4 separate regions of the Homo sapiens genome follow, and all the other regions are linked to region 1. Evidence: fine-mapped expression QTL. A gene starts in region 1. Each other region holds a variant in brackets. All regions are shown on one strand. Distances are from middle to middle.

Region 1 (8,101 bases):
CAGGCATCATGATTCTACATTCTAGAGGCCTCACAACAATACTATAATCCCTTTTATTAACTGCATCCTCTTTGCTTTAGAAAACATGTGTATGCTGGAAACTTACTCTTTCTGCTCAACATTATAGTTTTGCCTTGTATAGTCTTAATCCACATGGATTTGGTTTTTTATACATAGTGCGAGATAAGGTTCCAATTTCAGTTTTTAAATTCACACAACCACACAACCAATTGTTCCAGTGCCACTTATTAAAAATGTCAGCTTTTCCTAAGCAATTTGCAGTGTCATCTCGGTCATGAATAAAATTTCCATTTTTGTATTGGTCTGCTTCTGGGCTCTCTTTTCTCCTTTGCTGGTCAATTTGTACAGTTTTGCACCTTATTCCAGACTGTCTGAAGAAATAGAGCTTCATAATAATTCTTAATTTTTGATAAGTTAAAAAAAAAAAAGAAAACATCATGTGTAGTGATTCCAATTTTGAGTTGTTCTCTAAAAGGACATACACCAAAATGGCAACAAGCATTGTCTGAGTATGGCAATTATGAGTGGGTTTTTAAAAATCTTTTTTCCTAATTTTCTATAATAAATTTGTATTAATATCAGAAATTTTTTTTTGTTTTGCTTTTGTTTTGAGACAGTCTCACACTGTCACCCCAGCTGGAGTGCAGTGATCTCTGCTCACTGCAACCTCCACTGGTTCCTGGGTTCAAGTGATTCTCGTGCCTCAGCCTCCCGAGTGGCTGGGATCACAGGCACCCACCACCACACCCAGCTATTTTTGTGTTTGTTTTTTGTTTTTGTTTTTTTTTTTTGAGACAGAGTCTCGCTCTGTCGCCCAGGCTGGAGTGCAGTGGCGCAATCTCGGCTCACTGCAAGCTCCGCCTCCTGGGTTCACAGCATTGTCCTGCCTCAGCCTCCCGAGTGGCTTGGACTATAGTCACCCACCACCAGCCACCACACCCGGCTAATTTTTTGTATTTTTAATAGAGACGGGGTTTCACTGTGTTAGCCAGGATGGTCTCGATCTCCTGACCTCGTGATCCACCGGCCTCGGCCTCCCAAAGTGCTGGGATTACAGGCGTGAGCCACTGCGCCAAGCCTTTTTTTTGTATTTTTAGTAGAGATGGGGTTTCACCGTGTTGGCCAGGCTGGTCTCCAACTCCTGACCTCAAGTGATCTGCCTGCCTCGGCCTCCCAAAGTGATGAGATTACAGGTGTGAGCCACCTCGCCCAGCCCAGAAAGTATTTTTAGAGAGAAAATTTCTGCATAGTGTTAGATACAGCATAATTTAAGCTGTTAGTCTTTCTAAATCCAGTATATTAGCTACCCATCTCAAGTTCAGGCTACTGGCAAGTCTCATCAGCATATCCATCATTCTCATTCACGACATCAATGAAAATGTAGATCTAGGCCTGGCTGGCTCACGCCTGTAATCCCAGCACTGTGGGAGGCCGAGGTGGGCAGATCACAAGGTCGGGAGATGGAGACCATCCTGGCTAACACACAGTGAAACCCCATCTCTATTAAAAATTCAAAAAAATTAGCCGGGTGTGGTGGTGGGCACCTGTAGTCCCAGCTACTCAAGAGGCTGAGGCAGGAGAATGGTGTGAACTCAGGAGGCAGAGCTTGCAGTGAGCAGAGATCGCGCCACTGCACTCCAGCCTGGGAGACAGAGCGAGACTCCATCTCAAAAAAACAAAACAAAACAAAACAAAAAACGTAGATCTAGACAAGGCCACCGCAGACACCTGTCATCACTGCATTAATTAATCCCCTTTTGATAACCATAAAACTAGGTAGCCTATATGTATTTACTCAATGCTTCTTATGTGTTAGTTACCAGGCTCTGCAGAGGACACAAGCACCCCACTGACCTCCTGATGTAGCAATCTATTATCCAAAATGGAGCCAAAACTACTTTATACTGTTGGCATTTATTAAGTGCTTCTATGGGCCAGACAACGTATAGTCTTCATGTATACTATCTCAATGAATCCTTACAATAGTCTTCTATGGAGTAGAAATTATTGTTCTCATTTTATAGATAGGAAAAGTGAGAATCAGAAAGATTAAGTGACTTGCTCCAAGGTCACAGAGCTAGTGTGCAGCAAGGGCAGCATCCGAATCCCAAGTGTATCCTATTCCAAATCCCATGCTCCCAGTGGCTCTTCTATCCTTCTCCCCGCTCCACCCAGATGCAGCTACACTTGGCTAGCTGGACTCCTTACTGCCAAACATCTAAATCCTAAAGTTTGATGATCACTTTATGATTTTAATCAGTCTTTCTGTCCTGTAGTCCTCTTTTCTAAGAGACAAATCAACTATCCTAGAAACCAGTTTTCAGTTACTGCTTAAGTTAATTCTAGGGCATCTTACCCCTCTCTAGCAATGGGATTATATCAATGAAACCGATTTTCCTATCCCCCTCCATTGCATGGGGATGAAAATCTGTCCCATTTTTGAAAGCTCTTCAAAAAAACTCCTAGTTGCCAGTCCTCATTCCTGAAACAAACGAACCTTCCTCATGGCGACCAAAAGAGTTAAACTCAAAAATATCTGAAGAGACTTATTCTGAGCCAAGTATGAGTGACCATGGCCCATGATCCAGCCCTCGAGAGGTCCTGAGAACATGTGCCCAAGGTGGTCGGGGTGCAGCTTTTTTTTTTTTTTTTGAGACGGAGTCTCGTTCTGTTGCCCAGGCTGGAGTGCAATGGCATGATCTCGGCTCACTGCAAGCTCCGCCTCCTGGGTTCACGCCATTCTCCTGCCTCAGCCTCCCGAGTAGCTGGGACTACAGGCGCCCACCACCACGCCCAGCTAATTTTTTGTATTTTTAGTAGAGACGGGGGTTTCATCTTGTTAGCCAGGATGGTCTCGATCTCCTGACCTCGTGATCCGCCTGCCTCGGCCTCCCAAAGTGCTGGGATTACAGGCGTGAGCCACCGCGCCCGGCCGCGGCTTGGTTTTATACATTCTAGAGAGGCATGAGACATCAAATACATTTCAGAAATACACTGGTTTTGTCCAGAAAGGTGGGACAACTCAAAGCGGGGGCTTCCAGGCTATAGGTAAATTTAAACATTTTCTAGTTGACGGTTGAGTTTGTCTAAACACCTGGGATGGATACAAAGAAAATGCTCAGGTTAAGATAAAAGATTGTGGAGACCAAGGTTCTTTTCAAGTCTTTAGTGGCTGCCCTTAGAGACAACAGACAAGTGTTTCCTATTCAGATCTTTGAAAGGTGGTAGACTCTTAATCTCTTTAGGATTGGGAGGGCCTGGAAGAAAAAGATCTAGCTATGTTAATAGAGATTCTTTGCAGATGCAAATGTCCACCCCGCCCGCCCCCCCCAAAGAACAGCTTTGCAAAGCCATTTCAAAATGTGGCAAAGAAACATGTTTAGGGGTAATATTTTAACTTTCTTCTTTGTCACATAATGTTAGGCCAGAGCCAGTTTGGAAAGTAAGTCACGATATATAGGGTTAAATGAAAGCCATCTGATGAGAATTTATGGTTTGTAGGGCATGACTCTTCCCAGACAGGAATGTGGGCAAGATAAAAAAAAAAATCAGAGCTTAGTCCGCACTCAGTCGAGGAAACTGGCTTAGAGAAGTTAAGCTTTGGCCTGGGACTTGCGCCGGAACTTCAGGTCCTACCTTCCACGGGAAACAGCCTCTAATTCCTTCCTTTACTTTTCTAGGCGCAGGAGCCAGCTCCCCGCCCCTCCACACCGCTCCACTCCCCGCTTCCAGGCGCATCCCTGCGGGTGGTGTTCCGGTTAGAGACACGTGTTTCGGCGCAACTTGTCCCGAAGCTGCCCGGTGTCTTTCTCCCGCTTAACTCCGTGAATGACTCGAAACCCGACTCCAAGGCACGGCTGCAGCTCGCGGCGCGCCCACAGCCGGGCCGCGGGTGGGGACGGAGCTGAAGCCGGGTCAGAACTCACCCGACTCGCCTGGGCTGGGGGACGTCTGGAGAACGTCCTGGGGTTGTCGAAGAGCGAACCGTCGGCGGCTGCCATGGTCTGCGTGGGTGACGCGTGGTGCAGCAGCGAGCCCGGTGCGCAGACTGCTGGGCCCGGGACCCCACGTGGGACGCGCGAGGACCCTGCGCCACCGCCCCTTCCGGGTCCGGAACGGCTCCAGCTGTACGGACTCGTCCCGAGGGGAGCCGGGGACGGCGGCACCGGGCGGGTAGGGACAAGACTACCGCGCGTGCCCCCGCCTGGTGGCAGCCCCTCTCTGCGTCCCTCGCGGCCTGGCAAAATTACATTCGGCCGAGAGTTCACGCTGGGGAAGCTCTCTGAATGCCTCTGAGAAGCGAGATCCGGCGCCATCTCACCGACGAGCCTCCCCTTTACCGCCCCGTGCGTTTCCTCAGCACTTTAGGAACTAAAGCCTGTCTGGGTAGCTCCCTAACAGGCTCTGGAGCTCAATCCCTGGGCAGGGAAAAGGGGGTCCTCGGGGCTCCCCGCTCGCTGTCCTTTTTCTGGACAGGCAGTTCCTTGGCCACCTGGTAGGGCCGCGTTGCCTGGCAACGGCGGGGTCCTTCTTGGCTCGGCGGCGCTCGGGGCCTGAGGGGAGAAAACCGCCGCGGAGGGCGCTGGGGGTGGCGGCGGCGGTCCGGGAGGTGGTCGCGCGACTGCGTGGAGCGCCAGGGCGTCCGACCTCTGCACCTGAGAGAAGATGAACACGGCCGACCAGGCCCGGGTGGGGCCCGCGGACGACGGGCCTGCGCCGTCTGGGGAGGAGGAGGGAGAGGGGGGCGGCGAGGCGGGCGGGAAGGAGCCAGCAGCGGACGCGGCCCCGGGGCCCAGCGCTGCATTCCGCCTCATGGTGACTCGGCGGGAGCCGGCCGTGAAGCTGCAGTATGCGGTGAGCGGCCTGGAACCGCTGGCTTGGTCCGAGGACCACCGCGTGTCTGTGTCCACGGCCCGCAGCATCGCTGTGCTGGAGCTCATCTGCGACGTGCACAACCCGGGCCAGGACCTGGTTATCCACCGCACCTCGGTGCCCGCACCGCTCAACAGCTGTCTCCTCAAAGTAAGTCATCCCCCGCCATCCCTGGGGTCTTCCCCTGTCCCCCTCTCGCGGCCGCATCATCCGTCCCAGGGGAATCCGATCCCACACTCTGTCCGGGGATTTCCCTCTTCGCACCGAGCGCTGGGGATTTATTAAGCAGCCAGGGTTACCACAGCTTAAAAAAAAAAAAAGAAAAGCTCTGCAGCTGTCTGCACCCTGTTTCCCCAGGTCACCCGCCGCCGCAAACACAGGTACACACCCAGGGGGCTTCCCGGAGTTGAGTCCCAGGAACCCCTCCTTCGCCCCTCCGTCGGGCCCGCACATGGAGCGGGTTACTCGATGGTGCTTTCTGAGACTCCACCCCCTGTAGATCCAACCCGGGGCCTGCCTCTGTCGTTGCTGCTATTGTTTGGGGCCGACTTTCCGAGGTTCTTGGCTGGCTTTGTCTACTGTGTGTGTCCTCCTCTCGCGCCTCTTTAGCTTCAGAAAAGAAAAACTGGTCCCATCCATTGTCTTAATTGTTTCAGTGACTTTATTATGAATGGTCCTCGCCTCTCCTTGGGCAAACGGGTAAATACTGGATCTCGGGGTTTGTACTTTAGTTTTTCTTTACTAGCTAAACATCTTTGGGATGTTGAATGAAAATAAAGATTCGAAACAACTACCTATCTTAAACTTCAAGCGCAAGGTCAAGTAGTAAGCCATAGCGTTCCTTTTAGTTGCTTAGAGGTGTAAAAACTTTCCATATATCCTTGATAGAGGTGTACGCTTACATGTGAACTGTCAGTGTATATTCATACATTCAATAGATATTTGAATACCATTCTGCTTGGTGCTGCCCCATGTTCTGGAAATAAAGCAGTGTACAAAACAGAACCCCTGCCCTCATGAAGCTTACATTCTTTGGCAAGTCAAGCACAAATGATAAGGTCCTGTCAGGTAGTGATAAGCACTGTAAAGATGTGTATCCGCACATAGAGAACATGTTTATGTGTTCGTAAACTCTTATTTTGGAAAACCATTGAAAATATGAGTCATTAGCTATAGGTAGGGTGCAGATAACCCTCATCACTTTGTAGCATACTTAATTCAAGTTTCAAACATCTTTCTGTTGTTAGATTGTTAGTCAGCTTGTATGACTAAGCTTCCTCTAAGATCTTCTTGAAGAAGATATGAACACATTTGTTCAAGTGTAAACAAATCAGATAGACAGATGCAACCCTATGAAATTGAGAAATACAAAAGGAGGGAGGCAGAAGAAAGGTGATTTAAAAGGTGTATCTTCTGCTGTAAAGGAATTTAACTGTTTCCAAGGATGTTCATCCGCACAGCAACTCAAGGAAAGTATGTATGTCAGTATAGTAGACATCGAATACCTTAGCAGAGAGAATGTAAAGAAAGGAGGGAGTAGTAAGGGGAGAGACTTATGGGGCAGGTCATCTGGTGGTGAATCTGCAGCAGTCCTAAAGAAGGTAGTGTTTGGTTTGTAAGAGGAAGGAAGGAAAGGGCATTCCAGGCGGCAGGAATGAGGCATTCATCCCATGTGCATACACGTTTAAGTCATGAACATAATTAATTATTGTTTGTATAATGACGGATCAGTACATGAGCTCAAGTAGGTCTTCTAGAGAGTCCGAGAAAGTAAGATGAGACCAGTTTGTGGACTTGGAAGGTCGGTATGAGGAAGTTGGCTTCAATCTAGGAAGTCTTTAAGATGCTGTTACAGTTTCATTAGCATAGAGTGACCTGCTGTGGTTCAGGAACATTACTGGATAGAGGCAAGAAGATGATTGTTGTGATCAGTGTAAAATAAAAGTGAAGAGACTGGGCTTTGGCACAAGATAGGCCTATCTATAAAAGGGGGATAATGAAGCGTTGTTTAGGTTTTTTGGAAGATTAAACACACATAATCACTTGGCCCAGTTCTTGGCACGCTGTAAATGCTCAAGGTGAAAATATAATGAGTTGGGCCGGGCGCGGTGGCTCACGCCTGTAATCCCAGCACTTTGGGAGGCCGAGGCGAGCGGATCACGAGGTCAGGAGATCGAGACCATCCTGGCTAACACAGTGAAACCCCGTTTCTACTAAAAATACAAAAAATTAGCCGGGCGTGGTGGCGGGCGCCTGTAGTCCTAGCTACTGGGAGGCTGAGGCAGGAGAATGGCGTGAATCCGGGAGGCGGAGCTTGCTATGAGCCAAGATTGCGCCACTGTACTCCAGCCTGGGCGACAGAGCCAGACTCCGTCTCAAAAAAAAAGAAAGAAAATATAATGCAGTTATACAGGTATGAAGGAGTAGGAGTCTGGATTAATGTCGTGGTTGTGGACATGAGTATTCTGATAAAATTTTGACTGTCATTTTGCCTCAGTTAACATTTACCACAACTGCTAACTAGTAACAGGAAATCCTTATATAGCTCTCTTATAGTTGACAAATGGCTTCTATGAAATTAATTAGTAACATCTTCCCCTTCTGTACTGTTGTTTTTTTTTTAATATGCACATCACATAAACCATCAGTCATTTAGCAGTCTTTTTAGACTGATTGAAGTGAATGAATGCTGAGTTGACCCTGCAGTTCTACAAGAGCCCTCTGTGGGTTAAAACTGGTGTGACGGTAGGAATGTAAAGAAGTCTGTGTCAGCACTTTGATGACTCCACCCATTGGCAGTCTGTGGATTTAAATCTGCTCGGTGCCGTGCAGCATGCCTTCGCGCTAACCTAAATGGTGGACAGTCTGCAGCGCAGATGACAGTTTTAGTGTAGCACTGTTAGAAAGCTAGGTACTAAACACCTTTGAAGCTTTTGCTCTATAATTCTGTTATTTAGATTATGAATTTGCAGGAAAATCTGCAGTTATGTAATAGTTCAGACATTAATTATCAGCTGTTTTATAAGATTGTATGATATAAAGGTGGACAGTATAAATCTGAAAAGCAATGAAATAGTGATTTAAGAATGTCAGAATTGTTTTTCCCATTGGACTACTGATTTAGTGACTCATCTAGTGAGACATTTGTGTATAGTTCCAAATTCTGATAATATTTGTGTACCGAATTGTATTGTGCATCAATTGTTAG
Region 2 (8,102 bases), 38 kb after region 1:
CACACCTGGCTAATTTTTGTATTTTAAGTAGAGATGGGGTTTCACTATGTTGACCAGGCTGGTCTCAAACTCCTGACCTCAAGTGATCTGCCCACCTTGGCCTCCCAAAGTGCTGGGATTACAGGCATGAGCCACTGCACCCAGCCTCCATCCATTTAACTTTCTATGTTGCTTTGGAACTCTTTTAATTATCACTCTGGTTAAGTAAATGACTATTATTTTACAGTGACCTGTGATTCTGTTTTGATCAAGTATTTCAAACTTTTTGACATCTTTGACAGGTTTCCCCAGGATCAAAATTCTAAATTAAGTCTTACTGACCTAAAGTTAACTTTGGGATTTTCCAGTTGGGCCCCTGGAGAGCCTCAAAGGATGTATTTCTTATCTTGTAGAGATGCTAAATGATTAAGCTGATGTGGTCATTGTCAAATGATAGTGAAACTAGATCTTCTTTCAGTTATATTTATTGGTGTATTATTGATGTAAATGTTCCAAAAATTATATAAAATCACAAAATCTGATTTTATCAGTCATAATTTTGGTTACATTAAATTTTTTCTAAAGTGATGTTTGTATGGATGTGTTATTAATGGGAGTATTCTAAAGACTACATGAAATTTATAGAAGTCTGATGCTTCTGATGTGATACTATCATAGTCAGGATTCTGGTTCTCTCACCTGTGGAGAAAGGGCCAAGTGGAAGCTCCTAAAACTTCTGCCACAGCCAAGATAGTAAAACAGAGCAGGCCGGGCATGGTGACTCATGCCTGTCATCCCAGTAATTTGGGAGGCAGAGGTGGGCGGATCACCTGACGTGAAGAGTATTGAGACCAGCCTGGCCAACATGGCAAAACCCCATCTCTACTAAAAATATGAAAATTAGCGGGGTGTGGTGGTGCACACCTGTAGTCCCAGCTACTTGGGAGGCTGAGGCAGGAGAATTGCTTGAACCTGGGAGGCGGAGGTTGCAGTGAGCCGAGATTGCACCACTGCACTCCAGCCTGGGTGATGAGAGTGAAACTCTGTCTCAAAAAATAAAATGAATAAATAAAACAGAGCAATGCTGTAACTCAGGTGGAATCCTAAAGATCAATGTCACCTGCAAAGATTTAAAGATCGGGGAGGTGGTGGCCTCCGTCACATCCCTGCTTAATGTGCCAGGCTGGTCCCTGTCCAACCTGACGGATCTGACAGAGGAGGGGGGCTACCATAAATGCAATCAAGCCGGGGCCCCACCTGCAGCTGTTGTGCCAGACATAAGGTCTTCACCAGAGTATACCCACAGCCCTGGCAACTGATGTGTGCTGCATTGATGAGGCAAAGGCATTATTTTCAATCCCCATCAGAGAACAGGATCAAAAACAGTTTGCAATCTCCTAGGAAAGACTGAAATTCACATTTGCTGTCTTGCCCCAGGGTTCTGTTAACTTGTGTGAAGAAACTGAGGCTAACCTGACCCTGCTGGGGGATGTTATAGGATGTACCAGACACACTGCAGGGGCGACTATAAGAGGCACTGGTAATGCAGCATGAAGACCAAAATGTCAGAGCCAGCGTGATAAAGAATTATGACAGTCAGGCTGGACGCGGTGGCTCACACCTGTAATCCCAGCATTTTGGGAGGTCAAGGTGGGGAGATCACTTGAGATCAGGAGTTCAAGACCAGCCTGGCCAACATGGTGAAACCTCATCTTTACTAAAAATGCAAAAATCAGCCAGGTGTGGTGGTGGTGCATGCCTGTAATCCCAGATACTCAGGCAGCTGAGGCAGGAGAATTGCTTGAACCCAGGAGGTGGAGGTTACAGTGAGATCGTGCCACTGCACTCCAGCCCGGGTAATGGAGTGAGACTCTGTCTCATAAATAAATAAATATATAAAGAAACACAGGATGTCAGAGCAAGCTCAACACAACTACTGACGCAAATTCAATATCTGCTACTGAAACTAGGATGTATAACAACTGTAGCTCCTCTTGATTCCACTTGAATAGAGCTAAAAATCCACTACAACTCATTAGCCACTTGCTGGCATTCAGGGTATTTTTTTGTTGATCAGTAATTACATTTGTTGATCATATATTTATAAATGGGTATGTTCCTTTGGATCTCGATTTCTTCCCCACCCAAACTCGTCTGCTCTTCATTACAATATAATCCAAAGACATTTGTCTTTCCGCTCCACAAAACATCATGCTGCTCTGTTATGTCGACGGCAGCATCCTAACTGGACTTGGGAAACAGGAAAGTGGCAACTGCTTGAATGTGGGGCATATGTGTGCCAGAAAGTCGATGAAAAATACTACAATGATTCTGGGTCCTGTAATCACAATGAAGTTTTTATGGATCCAGTGGTCCAAGGCATGCCATGGCATTGTCCTTAAGGCAAAAAACAAGTTCTTGCACCTTTTACTTCCTACCACTGAGAAAGAGGCAAAGAGCTTCTGGCAGCCTCTACCAGGGACCCAGCTCCGGCTCACTTACTGAATAACTCAAAAGGCTGGTAGCTTTGTGTGAGGTCCGTAGCAAGAGAGGACTCCAGGTCCAGGCTGGGATGCAAGCTGGCCTGTCACTTGGGCCATGTTACCCAGAAGACCCAGTGGAGCTAGACACATCTATTCTACTCGACATTGCACTATAGGTCCTGGTCATTCCAATAAGGCGAGAGAGAGAAAGGTATAAAGATTGGGGGAAAAGGGCCAGGCATCGTGGCTCATACCTGTAATCCCAGTGCTTTGTGAGACTGAGGCAGGAGCATCACTTGAGGCCAGGAGTTTGAGGCTGCAGTGAACCATGATCACACCACCTCCCTCCAGCCTGGGAGACTGAGCGAGACCCTGTCTCTTAGGAAAAAGAAAAAAAAAATTGGAAAAAAGATATCGTATTCTCAGTCAATATGATATGTAGCCTGGGCAACATAGGGAGATCCTATCTCCACAAAAAAAAAAAAAAAAAAAAAAAATTAGCCAGGCATAGTGGTCCATACCTGTAGTCCCAGCTACTTGAGAGGCTGAGGTGGAGGGTCACTTGAGTCCAGGAGCTCAGGCTGCAGTGAGCTACAGTGGCACCATTGCACTCCAGCCTGGGCGACAGAGCGAGACCCTGTCACAAACAAACAAAAAATATGATTGGGTATGAAAAAAGTATAAAAGAATCGACTGATAAGTTATTAGCATTAAGAGACATTAGCAAGGTTTCTGGATCCAAAACGAATACTCAAAAATAAATTGTGCAAATATTCATAGCAGTTTTAGTCACAATACTCAAAACCTAAAAACAACTCAAGTATCCATCAATAGGTGACTATAGAAACAAAATGTAGAATAGCTACACAACGGTGTGTGGCTCAGCTACAAAAAGGAACAAATCAATAATACACATGAGCCGCTTACTGATTGATTAACTTAGCTCCAGATTCACCCTTCAGTCCCCACCTGCTGTCATTGGCTGGACTCCATCCTTCTTGGCTGTGGGCACGATATTCAGCTTTGTCAAAAGAGGGTGCTCAGGCCAGGTGCGGTGGTTCTTACCTGTAATCCCAGCACTTTGGGAGGCCAAGGCGGGCGGATCACGAGGTCAGGAGTTCAAGACCAGCCTGGCCAACATGGTGAATGAAACCCCGTCTCTACTAAAAATACAAAAATTACTTGGGTGTGGTGGTGGGTGCCTGTAATCTCAGCTATTCGGGAGGCTGAGGCCGGAGAATTTATTGAACCCGGGAGGCGGAGGTTGCAGTGAGCCGAGATCGCGTCACTGCACTCCAGCCTGGGGACAGAGTGAGACACCGTCTCAAAAAAAAAAAAAAAAAAGAAAGAAAGAAAGAAAGAAAAAGCGGGCGCTGGAGGGAGCCTGCAGAAGGCAGGGGCTTGTGGATCTGCTGCCTTTTCCTTCCTTCCTCCCTTCTTCTTCCTCTAGCATCCATGTACGTAGAGGACCGCAACGGTGCCCTGCCCCAGGCTTGGCTGCATGTCTCCACCCTGAAAGTAGCTGGCCTGTGGTTCCAGGATCCGCTCACACTGGCAGGGTGTGACCAACTCATCCTGGCTCTCCCAGAACCGGCCTGCTTTGAAAAGTGGAATGCCCATGTCTGGGAGCTCCCTCGGTCCCAGGCAAACCGGGATGCTTAGTTTCACCACAGACCAGACTCCTCCAACACAGCTTTTAAAGGAAGAGGAAAGCCCAGAACTCCGAGCTCCTCTCCCCAGGTGCTGAAGGGCCATGTTCCCACCAGGACCACAGCCCAGCCCTCCACAGCTAACGACAGAGGTGGTTGTGTGTCCGTCTTCAGGTTTTGTTCCCTTTTCCTCCCTTCCCTCTTTTCTCCTAAAACATGCGAAGGAAACTGGGGATAAGAGGGAGGCTTTCGACAATATTAGGAACATCTCTGACGTTCTTTCTCGAGAAAACGTAACATCTACCACCCTGGGTCCCCCGCTTAGGATCCTCACCGAGGACATCGATTTCAATACGGCGCTCCGAGAGCCCCTGGAACACCCCGGGGAAGTACAAGAGGTAGCGGCGAGTCAATCCAGGGACTCCAGCTGGGACCCCCGGCGAGTCCCTCGGCTCCATGCCCCTCCTTGCTTGCAGCTTCATCCTTGGAAACTGTTTCTCAAAGTGGTGCCTCGGCCC[G/A]TCTGCACGTGGAAGGCAAGAATCTGGGGGCCTCAAAATCTGCAGGCTGAAGGAGCTCCTCTGGTGCCGCTGACGCACACCGTAGCGCACCTGCGGCGTCTCGTGGCTGGCCCGTTCCCAGGGCACGCAGCTGCACTTCACCAGATGACGCCGATTGTCTCCTAGAGTGGTGGTGCCTGGTCCACCTCATCACAGTCTTCATGAGTTCCCCTTGCTCCCCATTCTGTCAATAGTAGAAGCGGCCAGATTTGTCAAATTGTTGCCAGTCTCAGAGCAGTACCAGTATCTCATTAGAACCTGCATTTCCCTGATTACTAATGACGTGGAGCTTTTGTCATGTATTTTATTGGCTAATCATGTTTTCTTCTGTAAAATGCCCATTCATGGGCCAGGTGCAGTGGCTCACGCCTGTAATCCCAGCCCTTTGGGAGGCTAAGGTGGGAGGATCACTTGATCCCAGGTGTTTAAGACCCCATCTCTTAAAAAAAAATAGTTGGGTGCAGTGGTGCATACCTGTATTCCCAGCTGCTTGGGAGGCTAAGGCAGGAGAAGCACGTGAGCCCAGGAGTTTGAGGCTGCAGTGAGCTATGATCACACCACTGTACTCCAGCCTGGGTGACAGAGCGAAACCACCTCTAAAACACACCAAAAATCCCATTCATGTCTTTTAAATATTTTTCTCTTCAGTTGTGTGTGTATGTGTGTGTGTATTGCTACTTAAGCCTGTCTCAAATGTATTCAGTGGTTTCATTAACATATACCATGTACAATAAAGGCCACAAACTTAAGTGCACAGCTTAGGATTTGAGTGTAACCGCTACCTGGATCGATACAGAACCTTTACATCACCCTAGAGTCCTTGTGCCCCTTCTCAGGCATGTCCCTCTTAGAGATGATTGCTATTAACAGTGCTTAGTTTGATCTGTTCTTGAACCTCATATAAATCAAATCATAAAGTGTGTGCTCTTTTGTGTCTGGTTGCGAGATTCATCCCTATTGAGGCATTTATCAGGAGTTTTTTATTGTCATGTAATAGTTTATAGCATGAATAAACCATAATTGATAGACACTTGTGCCATTTCCAGTTTGGGGCTAACATGAATTAAACTGCTTTTAACATTCTTATTCATGTCCCTTTCTATACTTATGCACTCGTTTTGTATATGCTAGGAGAGGAATTGCTGGGTCACAAGGTAGGCATGTTTAGCCTTGGCAGATAATTTCTTAACAGTTTTCCAAAGCAGTTAAGCCAATTTCCACTCCCACCAGCACTGTACAAGAGTTCCCACTGCTGTACGTTCCCTCCAACACTTGGTATTGTCAATCCTTTTAAATTCTGGTGGTGGGTGTGCAGGCATATCTCATTGTGACTTTTAATTTGCAAAACTTGGATCGCCAATGAGGTTAAGCGTTTTTTGTGTAGTTAATTGACCATTTGTGTTTTCTCCTGTTAAATACCTGTTCGTGTATGTTTCCATTTGTTTATTTGAATGCTTTTGACTTGGTAATATTTAGGAGTTGTGCACATATTCTGGACACTAATACTGTTTGGGTAAATGCATTGCAAATCTTTCCTCCCAGTCTCTCTTTCTTCCCTGGGTGGGTGGGGGGACTCTGCGCTTTGCCTCCAGTGTTCCATGTGTGGACAATTTTAACTGAAGATCTGGGCCATCAGGCTCAACACACACTTGTACGGCAACTCCGGCTTCAGCCTTCACCCGTCTGTCTGGATTCCTGCGTTCATGTCCTTTTTGGCCCTGAATGTTTCCTGCTAGCTCAGTTATAGTTACCAGCCCCCAGCCCTGTCACCATATTTCATTCAGAATTTTTAGGGGTTTGTTTTAAGAGGCATAATCAGGATCTCTAAGCTGCAGGTTGTCAGAACTGGAAGTCACCAGTTACTTTTGAATTTTCTTTCTTTCTTCCTTCCTTCCCCCTTCCCCTTCCCTTCTGACAGTCTCGCTCTGTTGGCCAGGCTGGAGTGCAGTGGCACAATCTCGGCTCACTGCAACCTCCGCCTCCCAGGTTCAAGCAATTCTCTGCCTTAGCCTCCTGAGTAGCTGGAACTACAGGCACATGCCACAACATTTGGCTAATTTTTGTATTTTTTATAGAGACAGGGCTTTGCTATGTTGGCCAGGCTGGTCTTGAACTCCTGGCCTCAAGTGATCCATGTGCCTTGGCCTCCCAAAGTGCTGGAATTACAGGTGTGAGCCACCATGCTCAGCCATGTTTGAATTTTCATGTTCTAACTATAAGCATCCTCCACAAAAGGCAAAGATCCTCAAAGTTCAGGTCCGCAGACACTTGATCAACGGTGGGATGTTTGCTACAAAAACAGATTTCCAGGCCCCGCCCTGAACTTGTTAAATCAGAATCTCTGGGGATAGAGCCCAGGAGTCTTATTTTTTATTTAATTTATTTAAAATTTATTTATTTATTTATTTATTTATTTATTTATTTTAAGACAGAGTTGCCTAGGCTGGAGTGCAATGGTGCCATCTCAGCTCACTGCAACCTCCACCTCCTAGGTTTAAGTGATTCTCCTGTCTCAGCCTCCCGAGTAGCTGGGATTACAGGCACCTGCCATCATGCCCGGCTAATTTTTTTTTTGTATTTTTGTAGAGACAGAGTTTCACCATACTGCCAGGCTGGTCTCGAACTCCTGATCTCAGGTAATCTGCCCACCTCGGCCTTCCAAAGTGCTGGGATTACAGGTGTGAGCCACTGTGCCCAGCTGAGTCTTTTTTATTTTTTATTTATTTATTTATTTTTGAGACAAAGTCTTGCACTGTCACCCAGGCCGGAGTGCAATGGCGTAATCTCAGCTCACTGCAAACTCCGCCTCCCGGGTTCACGTGATTCTCCTGCCTCAGCCTCCTGAGTAGCTGGGATTACAGGCGCACACCACCATGCCTGGCTAATTTTTTGTATTTTTAGTAGAGATGGGGTTTCACTATGTTGGCCAGACTGGTCTTGAACTCCTGATCTCGTGATCTGCCCACCTCAGCCTCCCAAAGTGTTGGGATTACAGGCATGAGCCACCACGCCCGACCTGAGTCTTATTTTTTAAACAAGCATTCCAGATAATTCTTACCTGCTGAGCTATTGCCCTAGGGACAGCCTCTCCTGGAGAGCTGCTCAGAGACAAAATTACATGCTTTGAGTGGCTAGAATACCCATATGCAAAAGAATGAAGCTGGACTCCATCCTCACACCATACAGAAAGGTTAACTCATAATGGACCACAGACCTACATGTAAGGCTAGAACTATACAACTCTGAAGAAAACATAGGAGCAAATCTTTGTGACTCTGGGTTAGGCAAAGCCTTTGTAGACACCAAATGTACACGTGACAGAAAAAATAGATATGTTGGACTCAATCCAAATTAAAAACTTTTGTACTACAAACAGCATCATCAAGAAAGTGAAAAGACAACCCACGGAACGGGAGAAAGTATTTGCAAATCAT
Region 3 (8,102 bases), 55 kb before region 1:
AATCACCTGATTTTGATTCTCAAGACAATCTCGTGAAGTAACTAAAAATATGGATTTTCCTCCCCCTAGTGTAGTTGAGATCGAGGCTCGGAGACGTTAAGAAAAGGGAAGGCCCCAAACTCACATCAGAACGGAGCCGACTTCAATCCAACTTCCCTGACTGCAAGACCAATGGTCACTTCCCTCCACTGGGTGGTCCCTCTGTCTTTGCCGTGACAGGCTAGAGAAACGGGGCCCTGACAAGACTGATGGAATAACTGACACTTCCCGGTGAACGGAGAAGCCAGACATCGTGTGGGAACAGGAAGCACAGAGTGGTCCTTCCCGGTGAACAGGCAAGCTGGACACTGGGCAGGAACAGGCAGCTCAGAGTGGTTCTGCCTGCAGATTCCCAGAGTCAGTGGGGGAGCCTGCGGCGTTTGTAAATTAACGTGGAAAAGGGAGGATAAACAATGCAAACTAACCATCCACAACGTTCTGGGATTGAACCCAGAAATCAGGACAGGTGAGAAAAAAAGTCTCTGTGCCCCAAACATTTGTTCAACGGACCGTTCCCACATAAACAATGAGACCATCCGCCCCAAAGTTCTGACATGAGTGGCTCACAGGGCCTCACGCGCTCTGGCTCCTGTGAGGGCTGAGGCTGGTACTAAAAGAACGTCTTTGAGGAGAGGAAGAAGGCCTTTTACAAATGTAGCATGCTGAGGGAAATCATCTCAGCACTGGGAAAACAGACTCAGAGCCCAGCCTCGAACAGGGCAATACCCCTCCCTCTCCTTCCTCTCCCCAGGACCTCTGGACAAGTCCTGAACATGCTCTTTTTGGGAGGAAAGGGCTCTTTTTGGGAGGAAAGGGGAAGGGCTCACCGCTCTTGCCTTGATGAGCGCTCACCACTGGAGGTGCAACTCAGCAGCAAGGAGCCCAGCACTGACCCCAAAGCCAGCCTGTTAGAGATCTGGGCTTCAGCAGCTCCTGGAATCTGAGGCTGGGCACTCAGCCCTTCCATCTCACTGGAACAAGGTATGCTCCCAGGCCTCGTCACACAGAACACACCAGAATGTGTCATACACATCTCGGATGCTTTCCAGGGCGGACCGCAGCACAACTGAAGCTCCGACTACGTTTGGGCCCTATGAACCCCACCACATTTGGGCCCAAAAGGAGGCACCCCTGAATTTCTGCAAGATGAGGTGGCTTTCTTCTCATTCCAAGTGCTTGTTTATTGGGAGAAGGGCAGGTATGAGTGAGAAGAGAGTTGCGGTGAGCATGGCAGCTAGCACATCACATCATGTGAACGGAGCTCTCTAGCCCCGTCACGGGACGAATTCAGCTCATCTTACCTTTTCACGTGTGCTTTCCTCTTCTTTCTAGTCAAGGCACTAAGATTCCTGGGGGCATCTCTTAGTCCGAAGCTCTTCGCCACATGCCCAAGGTGGAGGGATCGGACGTGGAAGATGTGCTTCAGCTCCCTGGGGTAGGTGGCGTAGGCTTGGATGAAGGACTGCAGAGCTGAAAGAAAAGAGAGCGGGGAGGGAAGCTGTCAGGACCGGGGTCTCCAAGCTCCAAAGTGCCCGGCCTAATGGTTATCTTCTGTACTTTATCTTGCCAGGCAACGAAACATGAGCAGGACAATTACAACATATACAAACAACTAAAATCTAGACTTCTGTGTATTTCTTCAATTCCTAAACAACAAAAAGAAAAAAACTACAGGGGGCCACAATTATTACTTGAATATGCCCGATAAAATATCAGATTTGACCACACAGCTCCTAACAATCCCACAGGGTGGGGCCCAGCACAGCACCTGGTACCAGCAGGCACTCGGTAGATGTCTGTTGTGTAAATGAGTGAAAAGAGAGAATAGGTGAAGAAACTAAGAAATGATCAACACAGGACATCGTTTTCTTATGAAAATGAGAAAATCATTAGACATTTATATTAACACATTTTTCCTAATTAAATTTTACTTACTTTTGAATAGTTAATGCATGCTAGTCTGTTACAAAATTTACAAAGTTCAAAAGGCTGTCTTATGACTGTCATGTTTACTATGAATGAATGACATTACCACCAATGCCCCCTTCACCACAAGCCCCACCTCCAGCTCCCTTATCCATAGGCAATCCCTGATACCAGTTTTTTGTGTACTCACTGGACTTTTTAAATTTAAAATTTTTTAAAGAGATGGGGTCTCACTATGTTGTCCAGACTAGAGTGCAGTGACGTGATCATACCTCACTGTAGCCTCAAGCTCCTGGGTTCAAGTAATCCTTGTGCCTCAGACTACAGGCTAATTTTTAAATTTTTATTTTTGTAGAGACAGGGTTTCACTATGTTGCCCAGGCTGGTCTTGAACTCCTGACCTCAGGTGGTCCTCCCGCCTCAGCCTCTCAAAGTGCTTGGGAATACAAGTGTGAGCAACCTCACCCAGCCTTCCTCATGGGATTTTAAAACCAAGTTCATTCTAAAAGTATCCAGGATTAACCAATACAGAGCTTCTTGCTCAAAGAATGTGTAAAAAAGGGAATGAAACAAATGTTTAAAGGAGAAAGAAAACTACTAAGTCTCTAAAATAGTCCCTTGAGGACTGACAACAATTTAGGGACATTCATCAAACACTACGTCAGGAAAGTTTCAGTGCCGTTTTAAAATTAAGAAGAGCGGCCGGGCGCGGTGGCTCAAGCCTGTAATCCCAGCACTTTGGGAGGCCAAGTCGGGGGGATCACCTGAGGTCAGGAGTTTGAGACCAGACTGGCCAACATGGTGAAACCCTGTCTCTACTAAAAATGCAAAAATTAGCCGGATGTGGTGGCAGGTGCCTGTAATCCCGGCTACTCAGGAGGCTGAGGCAGGAGAATCACTTGAACCTGGAAGGCTGAGGATGGAGTTAGCAGAGATGGTGCCACCGCACTCCAGCCTGGGCAACAAGAGCAAAACTCTGTCTCAAGGAAAACTAAATTAAATTAAATTCAGAAAAGGGGGTCCTTGTTGTAGGTCCCTCCTCCCTGAGAAAAAGGCCAGACTCATTCCCAGGAGGGTGGAGCTTTGGTCTACTTAACTAGGCATTCCCTTGAGGAAAGATTCTCGTAGATTGAATATCTGGAAGTAACAATGAAAATCAAGTGTCCACCCGCTTCTCACTCCAACAAGGAAGGAGGGGGACATCCTGCAAACACTCCCCGCCATCCCTGTCACTGCTCTCTTCACCTCCAATCCTGCTCTTCTGCCAGCTGAGCCAGAGCCCAGCCGATGGTGTCTGATGGAGGCAAGCACTGAATGCCAGCCTTCGCTTCCTCACTCTCCTTGTTGAGCCACTGGACTGGCAAGTTTGCCCACAGCTTAAACATAATATCCCAGCAGCACCTGGAGATTGGCGTTTATGAACAGTAATAAAAAGTGTCATTTTAGCAGATCAGCTCCTGGAAGGATCCTGGGGAATCCATCAAAGCTCTATTTACTGAGTAAAGTGAACTCCTTTTCCCAATCGATGAGCAATAATAACCAAGGCAACTCCTCTGTACCCTACTCTTAAATCTGTGCTTACTCCCCTTTTTAATAACTAGGGACTTTTTCAAAGAAAATCTTTAACGCTTCAAATGGTCTGTACTGTTTGGAGTACACAGAGCCCCACTAGATACAGAGCCCCACAGCCAAGCCCTCAGAGGGAAAGGCTCTACTGCTACGCGACCCAGGAGATTCAAGCCTCTTCTCCTCAACCTTTCTTTCCCCAACCCCCAACACTCACTCTGGTCTCAAAAAAGACAAGACCGAAACCAAGTCAAGCCGAAACCATGCCAAGAGCCTGCACTTTTAAAATCTCAGTTACCCAAATCCCGCTCTAGGTCTCTTCATTTCCTACCTCTCTTCTGTGTATGCAGATGAGTCCCTGGGCTTCCACCCTGGTCACCTCTCTTCCTCTCCTCCTCTCCACCAATCCTATGAGCTGAGCACTGAGAGCATCTGTCCCAGGAGATGTAGGTGCCCAGCTAACAGCTTTACAGGGATAATGAGTTTGCCAAGATGTGGCAGGAAGTGTTTTCTCCCCAGACAACTGGCCAGGCAGCATTTCACACTGCATATTTTTACTAAACCTCCTTGTCCTCAAGGCTCCTGTCTCACCGGGGACAGCGACAGTTGGTTGTTCTCACATACTTGCATGGACTCCCATGTTTGGA[T/C]AATTCAGAGAAGCAGGAATTTCAAAGACGCTGCAGTAGCTGTCTGCAGAACCTTTCAAGGAGCAGGAAGTGCTCATGTTGGCAGCGTCGAGAATGTGCAGAAGGAACAGGGGCTGTGGGACCCACACAAGCGGAAGGTGGAGAAGTAATGAAAGCAGACATTTATTTGGGGTGACGGATGAAGCTACAGGCCACCAGAGTTCAGCACTTTGCAGTCACTGATTCCTATTTCTTGCCAACTACTTAAGGTGCCTGAATTAGGGCAAATCTATTTTCAAGTATCTCACATGGACACATCGTCCTTTTTCATTCCTGGACATTTGGATCAGAAACTAGTGGTATCTTATGATGACTTGTAAGATGAAGGAGACAGAAATAAACAAACCTCCAGCCTGGAAGGTGAAGATCATCTCTGCTCCTCCCAACCCCACCTCCACTCCCACAAGAGCACCCTTCAGTACAGAATAAAGGCACACGCATCTTCAAGACCACCCAACACCTACAGCGACAACTACGGAAAGGATGGAGGAAAAGGAGGTTCCCTGCTGTTCTCTTCAAGACAAAGCATTTGGTAAAGTGCCCAGCCTAGCTCTGACCCCACTGAGGGGAGAAGAATGACTTGTCATCACTGGTGTGGGTTTTCTAGACTTTGAGAAGCATCCCTTCCAAACAGGCATAAATCCTACATGGAGTTCCTGGTCTGCAGGAAGACCTGAAGATGGAGAGGATTAAGCCACAGAAGCAATGGTCATTTGCAGGCAGAGGACTCTAGCTTCCAAGATTTTTGTTCGGGAATCTGGAATTCAAACTTATGTTACCACTCGTTTTACAACTTGAATCCCTAGCTAAATGATGCAAGAAAACAGAGGAAAAAAGGGGTAACTGCTTCTGGAAACTGACAGTTAAATGCTGGTTATTAACAATGACTGGGTCCAAAAATGCAAAAGGAAAACAAATACATACTTGGCCCAGTTTCTAACTAGTTTTCTGCCATCAAGGCAAAAGCCAGCTGCTTTGTTAATTATTCAGGAGGTGGGTTCTGAAATGGCATAAAAGGGAAGCAAGTCAATAGTGGGGAATTTGCATATGCAGATTGAAATGCAAAAGAGTGTCTCCACCTATGGGGTGCAGTGGCTGTTCCTATGCAGTAAATTCAATACATTTAGGGTGGCAAATACGTGTATACTCTCTCAAGCCTCCAAAACTCAGTCCTAAGAAACAGGAGAGAAGGAATGGTGGCGAGACTTATGTCTGAAATGGGGTGACTGAGCTCTGTAAGAGGCGGTGTTGTCCCAGCCCATTATCAATCTGGTGTGGAAATTGATTAGCAAATAAGAGACATGATACGTTTATTTCCTTCATGGTACATAAACATTGGGAAGTGACCCTGTTCCAATATTCCTTAAACAAAAGACAAGTGACCCTGCTTGTTTCATGGTATTAACAAGTTCAATGGTAATAACAGTGAAAGAAAACCCAAAACCACATCCTTTAAGAATTACTGTAACTTCCACTCAGATGACCGAGACACCTTGAAATAGTTGTAGTCTTGCCAAAATATCTGAGGCATCACTGACACCAAAATCGAAGGTGACAGTGTGGGTTTGATTTATTTCTTTCCACTGCAACTTTGATACCAGCCCTGGAATTCAGCAGCACAACACCTTGTTATGTACTGCACAGCCAGCTGAATTTGCCTAACTTTCATCAAAGGTCCAAACTGTAAAGTTACACTGTGACAAAGACCCTATTCCTCTTGAGAGACACAGAGCAATACTCCTCTAGAGGTAGCAAGGTAGGAAAACCCTTGGGAATTGTTGAATTCCCTTTAGGGAAATGCCAAGACAGGATATTATTAGAGAAAAGTCTAGAAGGATATACAATGGCAATTACGGGGACTTCATCTTTTACCTTGTGTGGTTCTGATTTTTAACGACAACCAAGAATTGCAATTATAATGTGCTAAAGGTATGTAACAGGTCCTTGACAATATTTGCTGACTAACCCATTTTTTCATCTATATTTTCTGGTGACCACAATTGCTCCTCAGCCAGGCTCCCAGCTTTCACACTTGCCCCCGCTAGAGTCTATTCTCACACAGCAGCCAGGTGATCTCTTTCAAACCTAAGTCAGATCCCACACTTCTGCTCCCCCTTCATTCCGACCAAGACCCAAAGTCCTACGTGATTCTGCCTTGGCCAGCACCCCCTTTCCACCCACACTGCCTTCCTCGAGCTCGTCTGCACCAGCTCCCACTGCCCAGAATGCCCTTCCTTTAGAGAGCCACGGGGCTCATCCCACTTCAGGTTTTTGCTCAAGTATCACCTACACAATGAGGCTCACTCTGACCCCATTAAAAATGCACTCTGCTATGTCACCCCTTCACCTCCCCCATCTCCTTCTACTTATTCCATAGCTCTTGTCACCTTTAAATGGACTAATCTGTTATGTTTATTATGTTCACTGTCTGCTGCCCCTGCACCCCACTAACATGTTGGCTTCACAAAGCAAGGATTTTTGTTTTGATCTCGCATGCATTCCAAGCACTCAGAATAGTGCCCGATTTGATAAATATTTGTCAAATGAATGGTTTTTAAAGCATTTCTATTTATAAAAAGAAAGGATGCTACAGTGTTCCGATATTGGTAAGCCAGCCTGGCACTCTTCTCAAAATAGCAGGCAACTAACAAAAAAACCCTGTGCATACTCCAGCATGGAGTAAGTCTCATTAGACATGGTCAGTCTCTGGCCAAGACATCCCATGATAAAAAGTACCAGTGATTACAAACCCCCTTCAGCCATACACTGCTTATTACTCAACGTGAACTGTGAAGTCTACATCTAATGTATGGTGATCCCAGGAGCCAACTTATCCAACAAAGGGTCTGAATATTAAGTCAACACCTCTCTCTTTCATAAATTTCCTAGGAATTGGGTTCATGGTCTATGGCTCTTCCTCAGTACTGTTCTTTCTCGTTTTTCTTTGTGCCTTCAAATAGGAACTGCTTAGGTCTAATATTTCCAGCTCTGGCCTTCATCTCTAATTTCCATCTCTACAACTATTTCTACTAACGTGTCACATGTCTTCTATCTGGTTTTCAAAGAAAGAGGAAAACAGATCCTTAAGATCCAAGTTGTTGGGTCAAAACTCTAGTCCCGATATAAGCCAAGATAAAGCCTCATTTGTGCAAAACATGGGGAAGGATGAAATTAACATTTAATATCACTTTAAAGCCTTCCGTGCCTGCTTCCAAACCCTGCAGAATTATGGAGATTGAAGGCTTTGGCTGGTGAGCAGGGACCTCCATGTTGGCCTCTCAACCGGTTTGGGGGTATGTGGGTGAAGGTGGGGGAGAGCACTCTGCTGGGCTATCCACTGCGCAAGCACCTAGGAAATCGACTGACCTTTCTTTGCCCAGGAGACCCTCCTCTCACTGGAGTGCACGTAATCTTCAAATACCGTCTGCAAGACTGTGGCTCGCTCTCGGATTTCCTGGGGGCCAACAGCATGGGATTTCTGAGAGGGCGACGGAAGGATTAAAGGAGAGATAGAGTCAAGGTCAGGAATAATGAAGCAGTTTATAATAGATTTAATAACAGTAAAATCACACAGTAACCACCTAGGGCCAACAAGGGTAATCCTTTCAATATTACTAGGAAAAAAGGGAGCTATAGAGATGTCAAAGTCAAGTAAGGATGAGGGTGGCTTTATGAGAGAGAACATCAGGTCTGTTTACTTATTTACTTACTTTTCTTCCTGACCTCTTACCATGCATGTTCAAAATCAAAGACCATTGGAGACACTTTGGAATTTTCCAAGTCCAATTCAGACATTTAAAACATCACTGAACATGAGCTGTTTTCAAATGGGTCTTGGATCTCCTAGGAATCTTCACCTTTCCCTCACGCGCATCAGTGGAACAC
Region 4 (8,094 bases), 380 kb after region 1:
ACTGGAGGCTGCAGCCCAGACGTGGAGGAGAGTCTGCACTAACCCCGTGGACCGGAAGGTGGAGGAGGAGCTGAGGAAGGCAAGTCCTGCGCTGCGCCTGGCCCCGGTGGCTCCAGCCTCTCTGTTGGCTTCCCGTGTTTACCCAGCTGCTCCCTGTTCCTGGCTGTGGGGTTGGCTGCACTGACCTTTACCCATTCCTTAGTGCATGGGAACTTCTCACCTTCAGATGCCATGTCTAAAGGCTGTGTCGGTATAAGTTCTACATTCCCAAGGTTGAAAATGCTTCTTAGAGTTCTTAAGAAAAATATGCGTGCGTTGTTCAGATGTGACATAAACGTGGAGCTCTGGGATCCACTGAGCTCTTATTCTTCCATTCACTCATTGCAGCCAAGCCAGTGGGGCACCTAGTGTGCCAGGCCCAGCACTTTCTTACCGTTAGAACTGGAACCGTGCTGCCAGGCAGCCCTCCTTCCCCGGGCTTGCGGGTGCCGTGGAGTCCTGCGTCCCCACTGGCATGAGCATCAGGTTCACAGGCCACTGCCACCTGGAGCCCGGCGCTTCCCTTACGCAGTGTGCCTGTGGGAGACCACGTGGATGTCTTGTTGATTTCCAGCAGTCACTGGGGCACACTGTCAGTGGCTCCTTATTGCCCACCAGGCACAGCCCACATTCCTGACCTGAATTGGCTCGTGAGGCCCGCTGCCCCAGCCCCCTGGCCCTCTACACTCCGGCCACACTGACCTTTGCAGTCCTCCCCGGGCCAGGCTGTCCCCTTCAGCCCTGACGATGTCCCACCTCAGGCACCTGTTCTGTAGATTGGGGCAGCATGGGGACCCTGGGACTCTAGCATGTGCCCCCTGAGCCGTACTCCCCACCGCGCTGTGGGCTCTATGAGGACAGCGACCATGTCTCTTATCGTTTGAGAGACCCAGCCCCACAACTGCACTTGGCACAGGCTGGGCATGCAGCCCAGGCTTCTGAGGGAAGGGATGAATTAGTGAGAGCAGGAGGTCCTAGGGCCACGCCCTGTGTGTCCAGCCCCTGTCCTCTACCAGCTCCTCTCTGGAGGGGCCGCTGGGGCCCAGAACATGTTGGGAGTTCAGGGCCGAAGGGTGGAAGCTGCTGGTGCTCATCTCAGCCTCTGCCCTTGGCCTCCCCAGCTGTTTGACATCCGTCCCATCTGGTCCCGAAATGCTGTCAAGGCCAACATCAGCGTCCACCCAGACAAGCTCAAGGTCTTGCTTCCCTTCATAGCCTATTACATGGTAAGTGTCAGCTGCCCACCCACCTGCCTTGGTTTCCACCCATGTGGTCCCTGGTCCCTGCTGTGATGTCTTAGAGCCACAGTAAGAGCAGCCAACCCCCTATCCTGGCTCCCCATCCTTCCTGCCCCACCCCCATCCTGGCCCATCCTTCCTACCCACCCCTGGCCTGGCCCTCATCCTTCCTGCCCTGCCCCCAACCTAGCACCTCCCCCGTCCTGGCACCCCCATCCTTCCTTCCCCCCTGTCCTGGCCCCCCGATCCTAGCATCCCTAAGACAGCTTATTAAAGCCAGCTAGAAAAGTTTCAGCTCCCTGAGTCCAGGGCGCCCTCCACAGCCTGTTGGGCTGCAGAACCCAGCCCCTGACCACAGCGGCCCCATGTCGTCCTCTACCTGTGTTGAGTGGGGTTCAGTGGGAGGCAGATCCACCTTTGATCCACAAGCATGTAAAGACACATGTCATTACTGAGGTTCCAAAGGTGCTGGTTGGAAAGGGATCCTCCCCGCTGCCAGGCCTCACAGAGCATTAGGGGAGGCCAGCGTAAGACATGACTGTGAGGGTCTGCAACAGGCAGTAGGACACAAGAAAGACTCATTTCTTCTGCCTTGTTGGACTTCCGGCTCAGGAGAGCGACCTGTGCTGCTTGGCGTTGGCATTTTATTTTATTTTATTTATTTTATTTATTTTGAGATGGAGTCTCACTCTGTCTCCCAGGCTGGAGTGCAGTGGTGTGATCTCTGCTCACTGCAACCTCCGCCTCTGGGATTCAAGTGATTCTCCTGCCTCAGCCTCCTAAGTAGCTGGGAGTACAGGCGCACGCCACCATGCCCAGCTAATTTTCTTTTTTTGCATTTTTAGTAGAGATGGGGTTTCGCCATGTTGGTCAGGCTGGTCTCGAACTCCTAACCTCAAGTGATCTGCCTGTCTCGGTCTCCCAAAATGCTGGGATTATAGGCGAGAGCCACTGCGGCTGGCTGGCATTGGCTTTTTAGACATAAGCCATTCAAAAGCTCCGTTTAGGGACAGAAGATGTCTCATCGATTAGGCCAGTAGTAACATTGGGCACTTAATATGTGCCAGGAACCATGGTAAAGGCTCCACGGGCGCTATCTCATTTAATCCTCTGAAAAACCATGGGAGGCCAGGCATGATGGCTCACTCCTAGAATCCCGGTACTTCGGGAGGCTGAAGCGGGAGAATCGCTTGCATCCAGGAGTTTGAGACGAGCCTAGGCAACATAATGAGACCCCATCTCTACAAAAAAATTAAAAATTAGCTGGGTGTGGTGGCTCGTGCCTGTAGTTCCAGCTACTTGGGAGGCTGAGGTAGGAGGATCACTTGAGCCCAGGAGGTTGAGGCTGCAGTGAACCGTGATTTTGCCACTGCACTCAGCCTGGGCAACAGAGTGAGACCCTCTCCCCCAAAAAACAAAAACCCACAGGAAAGGGTGCTCCTTTTCCCTCCATCTGACAGGAAGACCAAGGTTTGGAAAGGCCACGTGCCCTCACCAAGGTGACAGGGCCTGCATGTGGCAGAGCAGGGCTGGGCATCCAGAGCCCTGTCCCCAGCTCCTGAGCTCTTCTGCTGCCTCACTGTAGGCTCTGGCCCGTCCAGGGACCTGGGCCTTCACCTCACCTCACATTTTCCCCACTTTTCTGTCCCAGATAACAGGCCCCTGGCGCAGCCTATGGATTCGATTTGGGTATGACCCCCGAAAAAACCCAGATGCCAAGATTTATCAAGTCCTCGATTTCCGAATCCGTTGTGGAATGAAACACGGTAAAAATTCCTGAAAGCTTTGCTTCCTGCCTTTCTCTCTCTTTATCTTTCAGTTTCTAGCATTCTCTTTTGTAGTAAGAATCTTTTCATTTGGAAAGAATAAAAAAACCTTTTGCCCCCGTTGCTGAGACTCTTTTGAATGCAGAATGGCGTGGAAACGAAAGTCCTAGTTCTGTGCTGGCCCCACCACTGACCGCCCGTTTCTGAACCACAGTCCCTCATTAAGTGACTCCACGTGCCCTATGGTCCTGTGATGCAGGCCAGGCACTTGTGAGAGCATCAGTGCCCGCCCTGCCTGGGAAGTGCTGAGATGTGTTGGTGACCGCAGTGGCGTGCTTGGCAGTCTGGGGTTGCCCTCTCAGGAGCTGGCCCCATGGACCCAACTCCCATCTCCAGTGTGAAGCCAGTGTTGTGTGCCGACGGGCCCTGTGCCCGCCCACCTGACTTGCCCGCCCTCGCCTACAGGTTACGCCCCCAGTGACTTGCCGGTCAAAGCAAAGCGCAGCACCTACAACTACAGCCTCCCCATCACCGTCAAGAAGACATGTAAGCGTGCCAGGCGCCTTTTGTGGGTCATGAGTGATTTGCCAAGGAAGGCGGGGCACCTGGACCCAGACGGGGAGGTGGTTCCTGGGGGTCACTCCAGGGCTCTGCCGGTCATTCCTCCCCTAGGAGGGGGTGGGCTGGCAGGAGGGCAGGGCATGGTGGTTGGGAGAGACACCTCCTCCCCACCCTGCACATTCCAAGCACTGCTGTTGTCCCCACGCAGCCAGCCAGCTTGTCACCATGCATGACCTGAAGCAGGGCCTGGGCCCGTCGGGGACGAGTGGTGCTCGGAAACCAGCTTCCAGCAAGTACAAGCTCAAGGTGGGCGCCCCTGGAGGCCAGGAATGGAGGGGAGGACTTCCCTCTTGGGGCCGGGCACCTTGTGGGTGACACCTGGGGGGCTGTGATTAGGGCAGCTCTGCCCACCGGGGCCTCGGCACCTTGCTTCCTTTTAGGTCAGCCTTCAGACACTGAGGGTGAGAACTCGGGTGCAAAGCCCCAGGGCTGTGTGTGTTGGGGACATCTGGCGAAGAGGTGGTGACAAGTCTCAGGGAAGTCTGGCACCAGCAGCTGCATGTGGTTGTCCTTCTCGAGCCCTTTGGGAGCCTGGGCCCCCACTGAGCCACGTGACCACTCCGGGAATGATCGGAATTGGGCACACACAGGAGGACAGAGCCAGAGCAGGCCATGTGGGCTGCAGCTGTGGCAGGAGCCTCACTGGCTCACGTTTCCGTCAGTGCGGTTGCCCAGCGGGGGTTGGCGGTTTCCAGAGCTGTTCCCACATTCAGGCTCCCGCAAG[C/G]CGCTCCACAGCCCTGGGGGAGGCCGAGAAGGGGGCATCCCGCACGGTGGAATCACCTGCTGAGGGAGTGGGTGGCAGAGATGAGTGCAGCAGAGACGGGTGATGCGAGGGACTTGCTGTCCCCCAGTGTCTGGGGCCCTGCCTATTTTCTAGGTTTTTTAGACCTTTGCTGCCTTCCCAGTGAGGGGCGATCATGCCACAGCCTGTGCGGCCTTCCTTCTCGAGGCCTCTCCTAGGAGGCCGTTATCCTTACTCTAGAACTACATGGCTGGGTACGGAAAGGAGAGAGCAAACACTCACTAAGCCCTGCTTTTCCCAGAAAAGATGTCAGGGCAGCCCATAGGGGGACATAGGGTGACAAATTAGCAGCAGTGGGTGAGGGATAAGGTCAGAGTGCAGGAGGGCACAGAGAGCAGAGCCCGGCACAAGGCTAGTGCCAGCCCCATGCCATGGGCGCCATGGCCTGCTGCACGGGCGGGCTCACCGTTTCCAGTGGCCCCAGGAGGGCCTGGGTGCTCCTCTGCCTCTCCCAGAGCCTCCTGGGGAGTTGGACATTGTTTTTTCCCCAACTCCTCCGTGGCCTTCCAGCCTGTCTGCCCAACCTGCTCCTGGTGACCAGCCAGCTCCCTGGAGAGACCCCATGGGAGCCTACATGGAGTCTGCAACACTGGCAGCCCCAGGGCTCTGGCTCACCTTCCCTGTCTCTCTCCCCCTTTGTCACCAGGACTCTGTCTACATCTTCCGGGAAGGGGCCTTGCCACCCTATCGGCAGATGTTCTACCAGTTATGCGACTTGAATGTGGAAGAGTACGTATGGGAGGGGCCCTGAGACACTGAGGGGGGCCCGTGGGACCCAGGGACCAAAGCGGTCTCTGAACTCTTCCACTTCACGTCGGCCTTCATCTCCGGCAAGAGCACTCGCCTGTCTGGGAGTTTGGTGCTGCCGAGAGCCCTGGCATGCTGGTGGCCCTCGTAGAGGCGGTGCCCTATAGAAAGCCGTGGCTCCAAGCTGCGCAGAGACAGTTCTTACTGTTATGTCCTTGCTCCTCTTCCACTGTCCACATAAAGGCCCCATGAGGTGGTTCTCAATCCCAGGACCCATCAGATCCCAGAAACCTTTTATCGACTTGTTCTCAGTGATGTTTAAAGAATTGCAGGGAAAGGGCACTCACTGGGATGAGAGGAGATGGGAACACATCAAATACATCTTGAACTCTGCTGAAAGCCATGGTTCACCAGAAGCATGTGCAGTGGTAACACGGCCAGCTTCATGTGTGTGAGGCGGTCCAGGGAGCACACAGGTTTAGGGCCCCAGCTGGGAACACACAGCTTGTGTTTCCAGTTCCTCTCTGTAGACTTCGCTCACGGGGCTGCCTTTGATCTCAGTACAGCTCTGCCTCTGGCAAAAACCAACACTGGCATCTCTTAGCAGAGACCCGCCCTGGGACTTTATGTCCCAACCCTCTCCCCACCCCCAGGTTGCAGAAGATCATTCACCGCAATGACGGGGCAGAGAATTCCTGCACAGAACGGGATGGGTGGTGCCTCCCCAAGACCAGCGACGAGCTCAGGGACACCATGTCCCTCATGATCCGGCAGACCATCCGCTCCAAGAGGCCTGGTAAGAGCCGCTTGGGGTAAAGGGGGTCCAGGATGCCTGGTGATCTCCTTTGAGACAGAGGTGTCCCTAAGGGGACCCATTCCTGGGAAATGGCACCCAGGTGGCATCATCTTGCCCCTGGCCCTGGTGGGAGGAGGACATTGTGAGCCAGAGCCCAGCCCAGGTGCTGGCATCACCCCAGCTGCCCAGAGGCTGCCTCAGCCGAGGCCCTCAGCCCTGCGGTCCGGGGCAGGAGACAAGCCCAGAGGGGCTGGGTGCAGCAGCCTGGCACTGCCATCGGGGCCTCCACCTGACGCCCTCACACCAGCCCATGTCTTTCAGCTGTGCATGCGCAGGCTCTGCCTCTGTCTTCTTCCTGTTCTGTGTGGCCCAGCCCCTTCCTGGAACCAGGCAGCCCTGGCAGGAGTGAGGGCCAGCTGCAGGGAAAGTGAAGGGGGCAACACCTGCCAGGCTGTGGGTCTCACGAGGCTCGGGGGAGTTATAAGAGGCCCCCTCTCTCAGGGAACTCCTCCCAGGCTTGGGGAGGAGGCATCCTGGACCCAGCCACGCCCCACAGATCTGACCGAAGCAGGGGTTCTTGGTCTTGCTTGGAACCCAGATTCAGCCCCCTTTGGGAATCTAATCAAGGGTGTGGACCCTTTCCCAGAGAAAATGGTGTGTTCACTCCTGAGGGTCCATGGGCCCTTGAAGCTGCTCATGGCTCCCCTGCTGCAGGATTCCCCTGGGTGCCCGTCAAACTACAGCTTCCCTGGGGGGCCTCCACCCCATACTTACCCACCAGCTTCTTAAGAGCTCGAGCTCGGACCCTTATAGTAGTAAACAGGCTCCCCAGAGCCTGGTGGCCTTTCTGGGGCCACCCGGCAGCCTGCATGGGACACCCATGGCCTTGTCTCCTCCGGCCCCAGCTCTCTTTTCCAGCTCAGCCAAGGCTGATGGCGGAAAAGAGCAGCTGACGTACGAGTCTGGGGAAGACGAGGAGGATGAGGAGGAGGAGGAAGAGGAGGAGGAGGACTTCAAGCCATCCGACGGCAGTGAAAACGAAATGGAGACAGAGATTCTGGACTACGTGTGACAGGGCCCAAGGCTGGGCCTCCCTGACCCGGCCAGACTGGTGTCTGGCCTAATGAGGGAGCCGGGGCTCCCCATTGCCACCCACAGTGCCCGGAATGGCCCTAGGAGGCCCTCTGAGGAGAGCTAGAGTCCCAGCAAAGGGTGCAGCTGACCCTAGCACTGGCTGTGACATGCTGCTTGGTGCTGCCTCTGGTCCTGAGGGGTTAGGGACATCCCCAAAGGGTATACCCTGGCTCTGCCACCCATGAACCAGCCCAGCATCCAGCCAGTGAGTGGGCACCCAATGCCTCTCAGGATGAGACCAGTAAATGCCGGAGGTGGAGCTGGGCAGCTGTGGAGCCCCAGGCCACAGGCCAGTCTCGCTTGGCTCTCATGACTGTGGTGGTGGAGATAGCGTGGGGAGCCTCGCCCATGGTCTCACGTGGCAAGAAGTGCCTTTAGCTCTGGATCCCAACCGTTTGGCACAGCTTTGGCCACAGCCAGGCCCCTCTGGAATTGTCCTTATTAAACCAGTTTCCCGAGAAGTCTTGGTTTCTTGGTGTGAATGTTGGCGCTGCAGGGGAGTCTTCTTATTGCCTTGGGGCTTGGGCCCCCTTTGTCCCTTCATATATTCCTTCATTCATTCCTTCATTCATTCAGTGACATGCTGGCAGTGCTGGCCTGTGCCCCCCTCACATGTGGTCGGGTTGGGTGAGGGCAGCTAGGAGGACTCCAGGCCTGGGGTCAGTTCTTCTCTAAATGAATACCTTCTTGACAAAGTCATGGGAAACGGGCCCTGCTGTCCTGTGGCTGCCCAGTGTGAAACTAGTGGGTCCTGAGCCCACCGAGCCTGCCTGCCTGGCCCCGCTCCCCATGTTGCCCTTGGCTGAGGCACCTCTTGTGTCTCCCCAAGTCGGCAGCAGCACTCCCTCCCAACCTGTGTGCGTGCCGAGTATTTGTTGAAGAAACAGTCAGTTGTCAGAGAATGGCCCTGTTCTGGATTGGCTGGTTGCTTCTGTGTGGTGCTGAACCTGC

What was found.
Region 2: its variant is fine-mapped to the expression of DDX31 in amygdala (GTEx, PIP 0.97).
Region 3: its variant is fine-mapped to the expression of DDX31 in whole blood (TOPMed, PIP above 0.99).
Region 4: its variant is fine-mapped to the expression of DDX31 in lung (GTEx, PIP above 0.99). The same link has a PIP of 0.9 or more in unexposed skin.

The regions. Positions count from the first base shown.
Region 1 is chr9:132,665,913-132,674,013 of GRCh38, forward strand. It overlaps DDX31 (DEAD-box helicase 31), which reads right to left and starts at 4,071. Exons shown (of 20, transcript NM_022779.9): 1 at 3,948-4,071. The coding sequence starts at 4,022. It overlaps GTF3C4 (general transcription factor IIIC subunit 4), which reads left to right and starts at 4,552. Exons shown (of 5, transcript NM_012204.4): 1 at 4,552-5,043. The coding sequence starts at 4,687. RefSeq lists enhancers at 3,928-4,795, 4,481-4,560, 7,655-7,704 and silencers at 4,141-4,290, 4,711-4,840.
Region 2 is chr9:132,704,283-132,712,384 of GRCh38, forward strand. No RefSeq gene overlaps it. Among named protein-coding and RNA genes, the nearest start is that of GTF3C4, 38 kb to the left of the region's middle. The variant G/A (reference allele first, on the strand shown) is at 4,630.
Region 3 is chr9:132,610,747-132,618,848 of GRCh38, forward strand. It overlaps DDX31 (DEAD-box helicase 31), which reads right to left. Exons shown (of 20, transcript NM_022779.9): 18 at 7,584-7,695; 19 at 1,341-1,509. Among named protein-coding and RNA genes, the nearest start is that of BARHL1, 32 kb to the left of the region's middle. RefSeq lists an enhancer at 79-811. The variant T/C (reference allele first, on the strand shown) is at 4,179.
Region 4 is chr9:133,050,900-133,058,993 of GRCh38, forward strand. It overlaps GTF3C5 (general transcription factor IIIC subunit 5), which reads left to right. Exons shown (of 11, transcript NM_012087.4): 4 at 1-79; 5 at 1,161-1,265; 6 at 2,929-3,043; 7 at 3,509-3,589; 8 at 3,813-3,910; 9 at 5,113-5,195; 10 at 5,867-6,009; 11 at 6,915-7,604. The coding sequence ends at 7,081. It overlaps LOC124902325, which reads right to left. Exons shown (of 2, transcript XM_047424377.1): 2 at 7,182-7,275. The coding sequence ends at 7,182. MIR6877 (microRNA 6877) reads left to right here and starts at 1,097; the gene lies at 1,097-1,160. The variant C/G (reference allele first, on the strand shown) is at 4,389.